2 separate regions of the Homo sapiens genome follow, and region 2 is linked to region 1. Evidence: fine-mapped expression QTL. Tissue or cell type: gastroesophageal junction. Region 1 holds a variant in brackets; the other region holds the start of a gene. All regions are shown on one strand. Distances are between the middles of the regions.

Region 1 (5,210 bases):
CCTCCTGTGGAGTCCTAATTAGGGAAAAGGAGTCAGGCTGGTGGGAGCAAAGGAAAGCAAAAAGAAGAGGCAGGTAAGCCGCAAATCTGCCTTTCTTCATGGCCCAGAACAGGTACCCCTCGTGCACCCAGCTTATCACCAGACACCTGCAAGTTGGCTCACTGCAACCTTGCATTATTAGTATTGCACAAAGCCCTCTTCGGCATATAGCATAAGCATTATTCTATAAAATCTCCAGCCAGCCTTTGTTTCCTTGCAGTCAGCTCCTCTTCTGCTGGCCTGCCCATTGCCTTCTCACTACATAGTTTCATACTTTCTCTAGTAAATTTGCCTTTCATTATCTACAACTGTCTTGGTAAATTCTTTTACCCCTGCATCACTGGTCCAGATAGTCATTGCTCACCCACAACACATCCCACACCATGTTGACACCTGGCATTCTTTCCCAAGCCCCCCTCACCTCTGCTGACAAACAGCATCTAGAAAAACTTTTTCAAAACCCAGGTTTCATCAGGGTGGCCCCAGGCCTGAAACTCTTGAATACTAGGTGGTCTTGAGAAAGAGACCAAAATCCAGGGATGTCCCAGCTGCCCACATCTCCAGCCTCTGCTGCTGGCTCTGCTGGCTCTGCCCACTGGGGCCTTCTCCCGTGTTTTTTAAAGGTACCAGGCTCACTTTCACATGTTGTCTGGGCTTGAATCTTCTCCTGAGCCCCCAATTCCTCCTTTTTTTTTTTTTTCAAAAAAGCCCCAGTTTTATTGAGATAGAATTAATGTATCATACAATTCGCCCACTTAAGTGTACAGTTTAGTGGTTTCCAGCATATTCACAGAGTTGTCCAGCCATCACCATTGTTCAATTTTAAAACATTTTCATCACCTGAAATGGAAACCCTGTGCCCTTTAGTGGCCATCCTCTTATCTTCCAGCCCTAAGCAACCACGAATCTACTTTCTGTCTGTAGACATTCCTCCTCTGGACATTTCGTATGAATGGAGTTATATAATACGTGTTTTTCTGTGACTGCCTTCTTTCACTTAGCATGATCTTTTTAAGGTTTATCCATGTAGCACGTGCCAGTCCTACATTCCTTTTTAGGGCTGAGTAATGTTCTATTGCATGGATAGACCACACTTTGTTTATCCATGCATCCACTGATGGACATTTAGGTTGTTTCCATTTCTCTTTTTTTCTTTTTCTTTTACTTTTTTTTTAATTTAAAAAATTTATTAAAAACATGGAACATTTCACAAATTTGTATGTCATCTTTTTGCAGGGGTGATGCTAATCTCTGTATCATTCCAATTTTAGTATATCTGCTACCAAAGTGAGCATTTTATTTTATTTTTTGTAAAGGACGGTCTCATTCTGTCACCCAGGCTGGAGTCCAGTAGTGTGATCATGGGTCACTGCAGACTCCACTTCCTGGGCTCAAGTGATCCTCCCACCTCAGCCTCCCAAGCAGCTGGGACTACAGGCATGAGCCAACCCCCTTTCTACAGGCGCCTCACCCCTTTTGCAGGTGCACGCCATCGCTCCTGGCTAATTTCCATGTTTTGCCTGTTGTGAATAATACTGCTACGAACATTCGTGTTCACGTTTCTGGGAGGGCATATATTTTCATTTTCTCTGGGGTATGTAACTAGAGGTGAGAATTGCTGGGTCACATGGTACTGTACGTTAATTGTTTGAGGAGCCACCAGTTTTCCAAAGCAGCTGCACCATTTCACCCTCCCACTAGCAGCATATGAGTAGTCGTTTCTCTACATCCTCACCTAAACCTGTTTCAATTCCCACTCCGACTTCAGCTCTCTGTGTAAGCGTTGCTTCCCCTGGGAGGGCTCTCCTTGGGCCTTGATCCCCACACCAGGATCTAGGTCAGCTTTCTTTGCTTTATGCTCTCTGGAAACAGTGCTCCAGGCAACTGTGCTCTTCAGGGCACACAGGCATTCTTTAGTGCATATTCCACTAATAACTGTCTTTCCCCACACACTGTAGGCTCTGAGATGGCGGAGACTGTGTGTTTTGTTCACCTTCACAACCTCACCCGAAGCCTGGCCTGCAGCAGCTCACTGTAAATCTGTGGTGTGAGTAAAGTCAAGGAATGAAAGCACAAAGGTCACATGACTCATTCAAAGTCACAGAGCTCAAAGTCATGAGGAGCAGCCATAGGAGCCCTTTGTCCCACATCTGCCAAGCCCACAGGGCAGCCACTAGCCATTGAGTCCACGGAGCACTTGAAACGCGGCTTGGCCGACTCTGGGCACACCGCCTGTGAGTTAGTGCTCCTCTGCAAGGAGGAGTTAAAAAAAAAAAAAGGAAGAAAGAAACATGGCTAGAGTGACAAAGAGTGAAATTTTAAATTTTATTTCATTTTCATTTATTTAAATTTAAGTGGTTAGCGCAAGTAGAAGGAGCAAGATAAGAATAATATCAATACAGAGCTGAACTCCGCTTCCCCAGCATGGGAACCTTCCTGTTCCACAGCACGACTTTCTCCAGAAAGAAGTCTGAGGTGGCCTCAGGCTGAGCCACAGGCATGGGCACAGCCTGCCACTGAGGCTCCACTCATCGGGGGCCTGGGAAGAGACTGAGAGGCTCGGAACCCTAGAGAGTCTGCAAAGCCAGGAAGCATCCAGTTCTGGTTTCATGTTGGGTGCTGT[C/T]GTTACCTTGCTTCTTCTACTTAAGCTTATGGCAATTTAAATTTAAATTAATTAAAATGAAATAAAATTGAAAACTCAGTTTCTCAGTTAGCTCCAACCCCATTTGAAGTGCTCAAAGGCCACGCATGACTAACGGCTACATCGGATACCACATCGGATACCACATCAGATACCACATCGGATGGAGCAGATGTGGGACATTCCCATCATTGCGGAAAGTTCAGTTGGCTGGTGCTGCCCTCAGGGTCTGTCTCACAGAGGTTTCTTCTGTCTCTCTCTCCTCCAGGAGAACCTCCTTCTATACCCGCCAGCTCTCAAGGCCTCAGGGCCCAGAGGCCCAATTCCCCATATCCTACACCTACCCCCGTGTGCAAGCAGGGCCTGGGACTTCTGGTACCCAGGTCATCCCTGGGAAGCTCACTCTTCTCCCCAACAGCATGGCGAACCCCAAACAGTAGCCTAGGCTTACAAGAGCAAGAACAAACTCTCTCCTCCCCGGTATTACAAGATGCTCCAGTCTCCCGGATGCAAAACCCTATAAAGAGGGGCGAGGAAAAACCTTCTCCTACTCTTTCCAATTCATTCCCATTCTGATGAGCCCACGGGAAAATAAGACAGTTCCTTTCCCCAGATCCTCCTCCTTCTGGTTCACAGGCTCAACAACTCACATCTGTTCTTTCGTATTCACAGAATTTGAGAATCTGATGATTGCAGCTGGAAAGACTGCAGAGAGCACCTGGGTCAACCTTTTCATTTTGCATAAAGGGAAATAGGCCCAGAGAAAGAAAAGGGACTGTCCCAAGATCGCACAGCAACCATTTTGACCTTCAACAAGTACTCCCTGACTCCAAGCAATAAGGGTGAAAAAATAAGGAATAAATTGTATAAAGCACGTATTATGTGGTAGGTGCTTTACAAAAAACATCAACTTATTTAATTTTTACCATGAGTTTGATTGCCTATCTCAGATCAGTCTCTGAGGCTCAGAGAGGTTAGATGGCTTGCCTAAGGCCATACAGCTGATAAGGGGCAGCGCTGAGACTCAAACCCAGGTCAGTTGTACTCTAGAACCCGAAAGACTTGGTGTGCACCAAATGAGTCCAGGGCCATCTCCCCCGTTGGAGGGGAGGGGATAGGAGGTGAGCGGCTAGGAGGTGAGCCAGAAGGGCATCAGGAGAAGTGAACGAGGCGTTTCAGACATGGCACATAAGAGGTTTCGTTAACCAGTGCTCATGGCCACTGCTTTGGGCATTGGGACTTTGGGCTTTAAAATTCAAGTTCTCCCTTGAATCTCTACGAATTTCTCCCTTGTAAGAAAAGCTTGTAAAATTATTTTAAGATTTTTTTGTCTCAAGACTAACACTTCTCAAGTTCAGAGATTTTATGATGTGCATACTGTGGATGTTTGGATAAACAGAGCCTCTCCCAGGACGAACAGCTCCACTTTCAACCACAAAGCAAGGGGACTCCCTGCTGTAAAACGAGTTTTTAGGTTGCAAATTTTTGCCACTAAAATTTTTGAGGTGGACCATGCCCCCTAGTGGAAAGGGGTGGACTGTGAATTATGGCTCACCCACAGGAGGGGCCTCATTACTAAGTTCTGTTTATTTCATATTCTAGGAAATCAGTTTTGCTTTGTTTCGAATCAGCCAGTGTGGTGAAATCAATTCACAGGTTTTTTGTTATTGTTTGGATTTTGTTTTGGCACTGGGTAAGGAAGACAATTGGGTGTATGGAGCACAGTAAGAAACCCTGCTGTGGAATTGACACACAGATCAGTTTCTGGATGTGATCCACAGACACCCTGCATCAGCATCCCCCAGGAAGCCTGTTATAGTGCAGATTTCTGAGTGTCTCTCAGACTTCAAAATCAGCCTCTCTCAGCCGGGGCCCAGGATCTGCGCAAGCACAAAGTCCCAGGTAATTCAGATGCATATTCAGTCCTAGAGCCATGAGGCTGGAACACCACCTGTGTACCGTTTCCCTCCATCCCCACCTACAAGGACAGCCCCCCATCCTTCCAGGCCCAGGTACGTGCCACTCTCCCACCCTTGCCCCTGCTCAAGTCCCCATCATAATCGAATGAGATATCATATGAGGCACACCCTGCACACCGCAGCCAGGCGCGTAGCATATGCTCCGTGCGCATTGCTTTTGAACAGATAGGTGTTCAAGAAATACTTGAATGAAACACCCTAAAACATTTCCACTCTTCTCAGTGGGCCATCAGGGGAAATAGAAACAGATAGGCCTGTGGCCAGGCCTGAGCTGGACTCCCAACTCTGCCACACTGAGGAGACTTGGATGAATAAATTTACTTTCTCTGGGCCCAGACTGGAGTGCAGTGGTGCAATCTCAGGTCACTGCAACCTCCACCTTCCTGGTTCAAGCAATCCTCCCACCTCAGCCTCCCAAGTAGCCGGGATCACAGACATGCATCACCAAACCCAGCTAATTTTTGTATTTTTAGTAGAGACAGGGTTTCACCATGTTGGCCAGGCTGGTCTTGAACTCTTAACCTCAGGTGATCCACCCACCTTGGCCTCCC
Region 2 (5,131 bases), 73 kb after region 1:
TTTTCAATCCAGATTCTCAGCAAGAGGCCCCAACTGGCCTGGCTTAGCTCAGGGGCCCACTCTTTGGCCCCTGAGGGCAGACACCTTGACTAATTCTCCCAACAAGAACGTGCACTGGGGACTGGGTAGTTCCCCAGAGCAACATCAGAGAAGAGGAGAAGTGGGTGAGCTGGTGAAACCAGCAGAAGCCACGGCACTTGATGACCAAGAACCTCAGCTGACCTCCCTTTGCTCCCCAAACAGCACTTCACCTGCATCACAGCCATGGCTATGTTCATCCATTCACCAACAAGCATCTCCTGTGCAGTCGCCATATGGAGAGAGGCGTTAGCCGTTTCTGAGAGACAGCAGTGAGCAAAATGCACACGATCCTTGCCTCATAGAATTTCCATTCCACTTGGGCAGACAGGTTTTTCTTTGCCTTTTAATTGCCTTAATTGGACTTTTTAATTGCAAAAGTATTAATAATATATGCTTGTTGTAACTAGTGAACCAATACAATGACAGGAAAGAAAAATTTAACATAGCTGCATAATATCACTTTTTCTTTTTTTGAGACAGGGTCTTGCTCTGTTGCCCAGGCTGGAGTGCAGTGGTGTGATAAAGGCTCACTGCAGCCTCAATCTTCTGGGCTCAAGTGATCCTCCCACTTCAGCCTCCCCAGTAGCTGGGACTACAGGTGTCCGCTACCACACCTGGCTAATTTTTTAATTTTTCTAGAGCCAGGGTTGCCCAGACTGATCTATATTGCCCAGACTGGTCTTGAACTCCTGATATCAAGCAATCCTCCTGCCTTGGCCTCCCAAAGTGCCAGGATTATGGGCATGAGACACTGTTTCTGGCCGCATAATATTTCATACAGTGAATGCATCATTATTTATTAAAATATTCCTCTGCCAAGTCATTGAGGTTATTTCCTATATTTTATTCCCATAATAAAAACAATGGGAACAATATGCATACACATTATTATGGCAGTTTGTGTACATGTGTGTATACATATATCTATACATGTTACCTATATCTGCATCTGTATATATATGTATGTATGTGTGTATATATATATATATATATATATATCTTTGTGTTGCTGTTTTTATTTCTATGAAATAGTCTTCCAAGTGGTATAGTTATGTCAGAGATCTGTATCTTCAATTGAAATAGTTAATACCAATTCACTTGCCCCAAAATTGCAGCAATTAACATTCCTATCACCAATTTATAAGTGTTGTCATTTTTTTCACAACATCTTTAGTACTAGGTAGTATCATCGTATTTATTTTTGCCAAGCTGGTGAGTGTCAGATGGTTTCAGATTCTTACTTTAATTTGAACTTTCCTGGCTACCAGTGGGGTTGAGCATTCTTTTATCTATTTATTGGCTGTTTAATTTTTCTTTTCTGAAAACTGCCTAATCATAGGTTTTCCGCAATTTTCTACTGGGTTACTGTAGTCTCACTAGCATTTTTTAAGGAGCCCTCTATGTACTGGGGACACTAACATTTTGTCTGCCATACATGCTGCAGAAGTGTATCATTTGTCTTTTGACTTTGTTTATGGTAAACAAATTGTTTCATTAGTATGAAAATATGTCCTGTGTGTGTGTGTGTGTGTGTGTGTGTGTATTTCCTTTGCCAGTCTCTAATTTGAAAACATATCTGGGGCCAGGCCCAGTGGCTCATGCCTGTAATCCCAGCACTTTGGGAGGCCAAGGCAGGTGGATCACCTGAGGTCAGGAGTTCAAGACCAGCCTAACCAATATGATGAAACCTTGTCTCTACTAAAAATACAAAATTAGCTGGGTGTGGTGGCGCATGCCTGTAATCCCAGCTACTTGGGAGGCTGAGGCAGGACAGTCACTTGAACTCTGGAGGTGGAGGTTGCAGTGAGCCAAACTCTCACCATTGCACTCCAGCCTGGGAAACAAGAGCGAAACTCTGTCTCGAGGGGAAAGAAAAAAGAAAAAGAAACGTGTCTGGGTACAAACATGGCCCTGGTGTTTGTACCCAGCTGCTGGTGTCTTCATCTGCAATTGCATCCATGTATGCATGTGTGTTAAGAGCATCTTTGGCTGTTCAACCAGCTTTCAGAGGTGCACTTGAGTTTACAGCAATGTGTGTTTTCCTTGATGGCTGAGTTTCCACCTTGCGTGAGGCTTCTCCCACCTCAGGTAACACATACATGCTTTTCTGATCCCTTTACCTCACAGGAGCCAGGATGATGAACTCCTCAGCTTAAAGCCCTTCACCAGCTTCCCACTGCCCTAGACATAGACCCCCAAATCCTCAACGTGGCCTTAAGGAATCTGAGAAGAGAGAAGAGGGTTCCATTCTAAAGCAGACCTGGTCAGCACAGAATAAACCCCACACGGGACTCGCTATGCCCACAGAGCACCGCTTCAGTTACAGAGAGAGGGAGGCTGGGGTTTGCACTCAGCTACCCAAAGCTCCTGCTTTCTTAGATCAATATCTAAGAACTTTTTTAGCTGATCTTGAAATCCAGAGACATCTCAATGGCCTGGAAATGTGTTCTTTTTTCATCCCACCAGGCAATCTGCCCCTTCGTGTGTTTTGAGAGCCTGTGCCAAGGTCCCTGTGGGCGGGCAGGAGCTACCTACAATGGTCTCTCAGCTCCCAGACCCCTCCTGATTCCCTAAACTCCCTCCCTGCCAAGTAGACCAGAGGCACCCAAGTCTAACACTGGGTCTAGACAGGTGCTAAGACAGCACCTGTCACTAGGACACATTTCTTGGTCTCTGAAGTGGCTGAAAAATACCCATTGTACTTACCGTTCCAAAGCCCTTTTGCCCACCACAGGCGTGTTTACAGGGGAAGTGTGCTGAGTGGAGGAACTCCCATCACACTGGCCTCTGAGTTACAGGAGAGCTGGGGGCGCCTTCTGAGCCTGAAGCCTGGAAGCGCTCATCACATCTGGGGCTCCCCCTTTTCTTCTTATGGGCCAAGGTGCTTTGACAGGGGGAGCTTGCCTTGGTTTCCTGGGTGGTTGTGAGCACCACGGCAACGGCAGGGAAGCTTCCAAGCACTTCCTGTTCCAGGGCCAGGTTTCAACTCAGGCTCGGGCTGTGTCCAAGGCCCTGGCTGATGGGGAGAAGCTGTGAGTGATGGCATCTCAGAGACCAGTGTGGGTGCCATGTGCCTCCATTCCTGTTCCTCACAGCACCTGGGGCAACCCAGGGCACAGCCTCAGTGAGAACCAACCCCCAAATCTTCAGGCTTCATCTGTCAAAGGAGAAGATTAGACTAGAAGCTTCTCAGATGCCTCCCAGCTCTGGCATTCTGGGGTGCTCTATTTCTAGCATTTTCTATCTGTGTTTTGACAAACATATTTCAATAAAAATTGAGCATTCCGCATTATTAAAAGCTATGCCTAATGAAGTACTTTGCTGATGATGATTTTTAATGCTGCTCTCTCTGGGAGCTAAGGACTGCCTAAAAGTCAAGGACAAGACCAAGAGCCTTCAAGCTGGCATCCAGAGTGGAAATGTTTGGGATTTGTTTGTTTTGTTTTGCTTTTTTTTTTTCTCTGAGATGGAGTCTCACTCTATCGCCCAGGCTGGAGTGCAGTGGTGTGATCTTGACTCACTGCAACCTCCGCCTCCTAGGTTCACCGGGTTCAAGCAATTCTTGTGCCTCAGCCTCCTGAATAGCTGGGATCACAGGTGCCCGCCACCACACCGGCCTAATTTTTGTATTTTTAGTAGAGACAGGGTTTCACCATATTAGCCAGGCTGGTCTCGAACTCCTGACCTCAGGTGATCTGCCCACCTCGGCCTCCCAAAGTGCTGAGATTACAGGTGTGAGCCACCGCACCTGGCCCTAAGTGCAATCTTACAGTGTCCTCAGCGACGTGGCCTGTGAAGCCCATGACCCAAACTAGGGGATGGGGAGGTGGAGGCCATGTGGGTCAGAGTCACATGGGTCACCACGGGTCCATCAAAGGCCTGGACCACCACCCCAGGGATCACAGAAATCCCTAGTTACAGTAATAGGAACCAGGAGGCAGTACAGCTTTTAAGACCCAAGGCCAGCCTCTCCTAGGCCACATACATCCTAAAGTAAAACGGGAAAGTAGCTGCGCTGCCTCCTGTGGCTGTGATCTAGAAACTACGAAACACTCTATAAATGGGAGGTACCCCTGAATTTGTCTCCCGCCTCAGCCCTCAAATCCTGTGATTCTACTCCTCCCAACACCATATTCTGCTTTGCACAGAAGCCGATCGCTGTGGAATGTTCTGTGAGTGGCTTACCCATCTCTGCATCCCCAGAGCCCAGCAACCAAACTTGGACTTTAGAAAGTGCTCAATAAACATCTCTGGAATTGGGTAATTGGATGTCCTAGTCCATAACCACCACTCTGCCTGTGTACCTGCTTGAGTGCCACATGCATAAGTGTGCACATGTGATTATGTATGCATAGGTGTGTGTGTCTGCTTCTGTGTTTGAGTACGAACATGGCCCTGGTGTTTGTACCCACCTATGTCCTCATTTGCAATTGCATCCATGTATGCACGTGTGTTAAGAGCATCTTTGGCTGTTCTAGTAGCTTCCAGAGGTGCACTTCAGCTTAGAGCGATGTCTCTTGGTTGTGCCTTGGATTTTGGGTTTGAGAGTGAGACGACAGGGTTTCATGGTAGTATACAACTGATCCCAGCAACTGCCACCGGGTTGGAGAAGCAGCTGATTGTCAGGCTTTTGGTGTTTAGTAGCAGCAGCAGCAGCTGGTGCTGCAGACAGGATTTGAGGTGGGGCCCAAAGGAGTCCACTGGTGCTCACCTCTCAGCCTAGCTCTTCTGGAGATCAGGAGGTAGGGAGGGACGTGCACAATGAGAGAACCAGTGGGAGAAGAATGTAGGCGACAAGGGGCTGAAGACACTGGCATGTCTTAGACAGGGGGGTTAGGAACCCAGTTCAGGGTCTGCCCACCATCCCTAGACGCTCAGGGGCAGCATGAGACCGGAAGCAGGCCTCTAACAACTGTTGCAGGGGCCTCAGGAGCCAGAGGCCGAGGCTGCATTCCTGAGCCAGGTGTGGGCCCTCTCTCATGCTTGAAAAACAAACACTTGTTGTTAATTTATTTTCCTTTTACAAACGCAATGCATTTACAGGCACAAA

The links. PIP is the estimated chance that this variant, and not a neighbour inherited with it, causes the effect.
Region 2: BTBD16 starts here. The variant in region 1 is fine-mapped to the expression of BTBD16 in gastroesophageal junction (GTEx, PIP 0.99). The same link has a PIP of 0.9 or more in skeletal muscle.

Annotation. Positions count from the first base shown.
Region 1 is chr10:122,341,814-122,347,023 of GRCh38, reverse strand. It overlaps the pseudogene RNU6-728P. Among named protein-coding and RNA genes, the nearest start is that of PLEKHA1, 30 kb to the left of the region's middle. The variant C/T (reference allele first, on the strand shown) is at 2,663.
Region 2 is chr10:122,269,171-122,274,301 of GRCh38, reverse strand. BTBD16 (BTB domain containing 16) reads right to left here and starts at 3,006. Exons shown (of 16, transcript NM_144587.5): 1 at 2,788-3,006.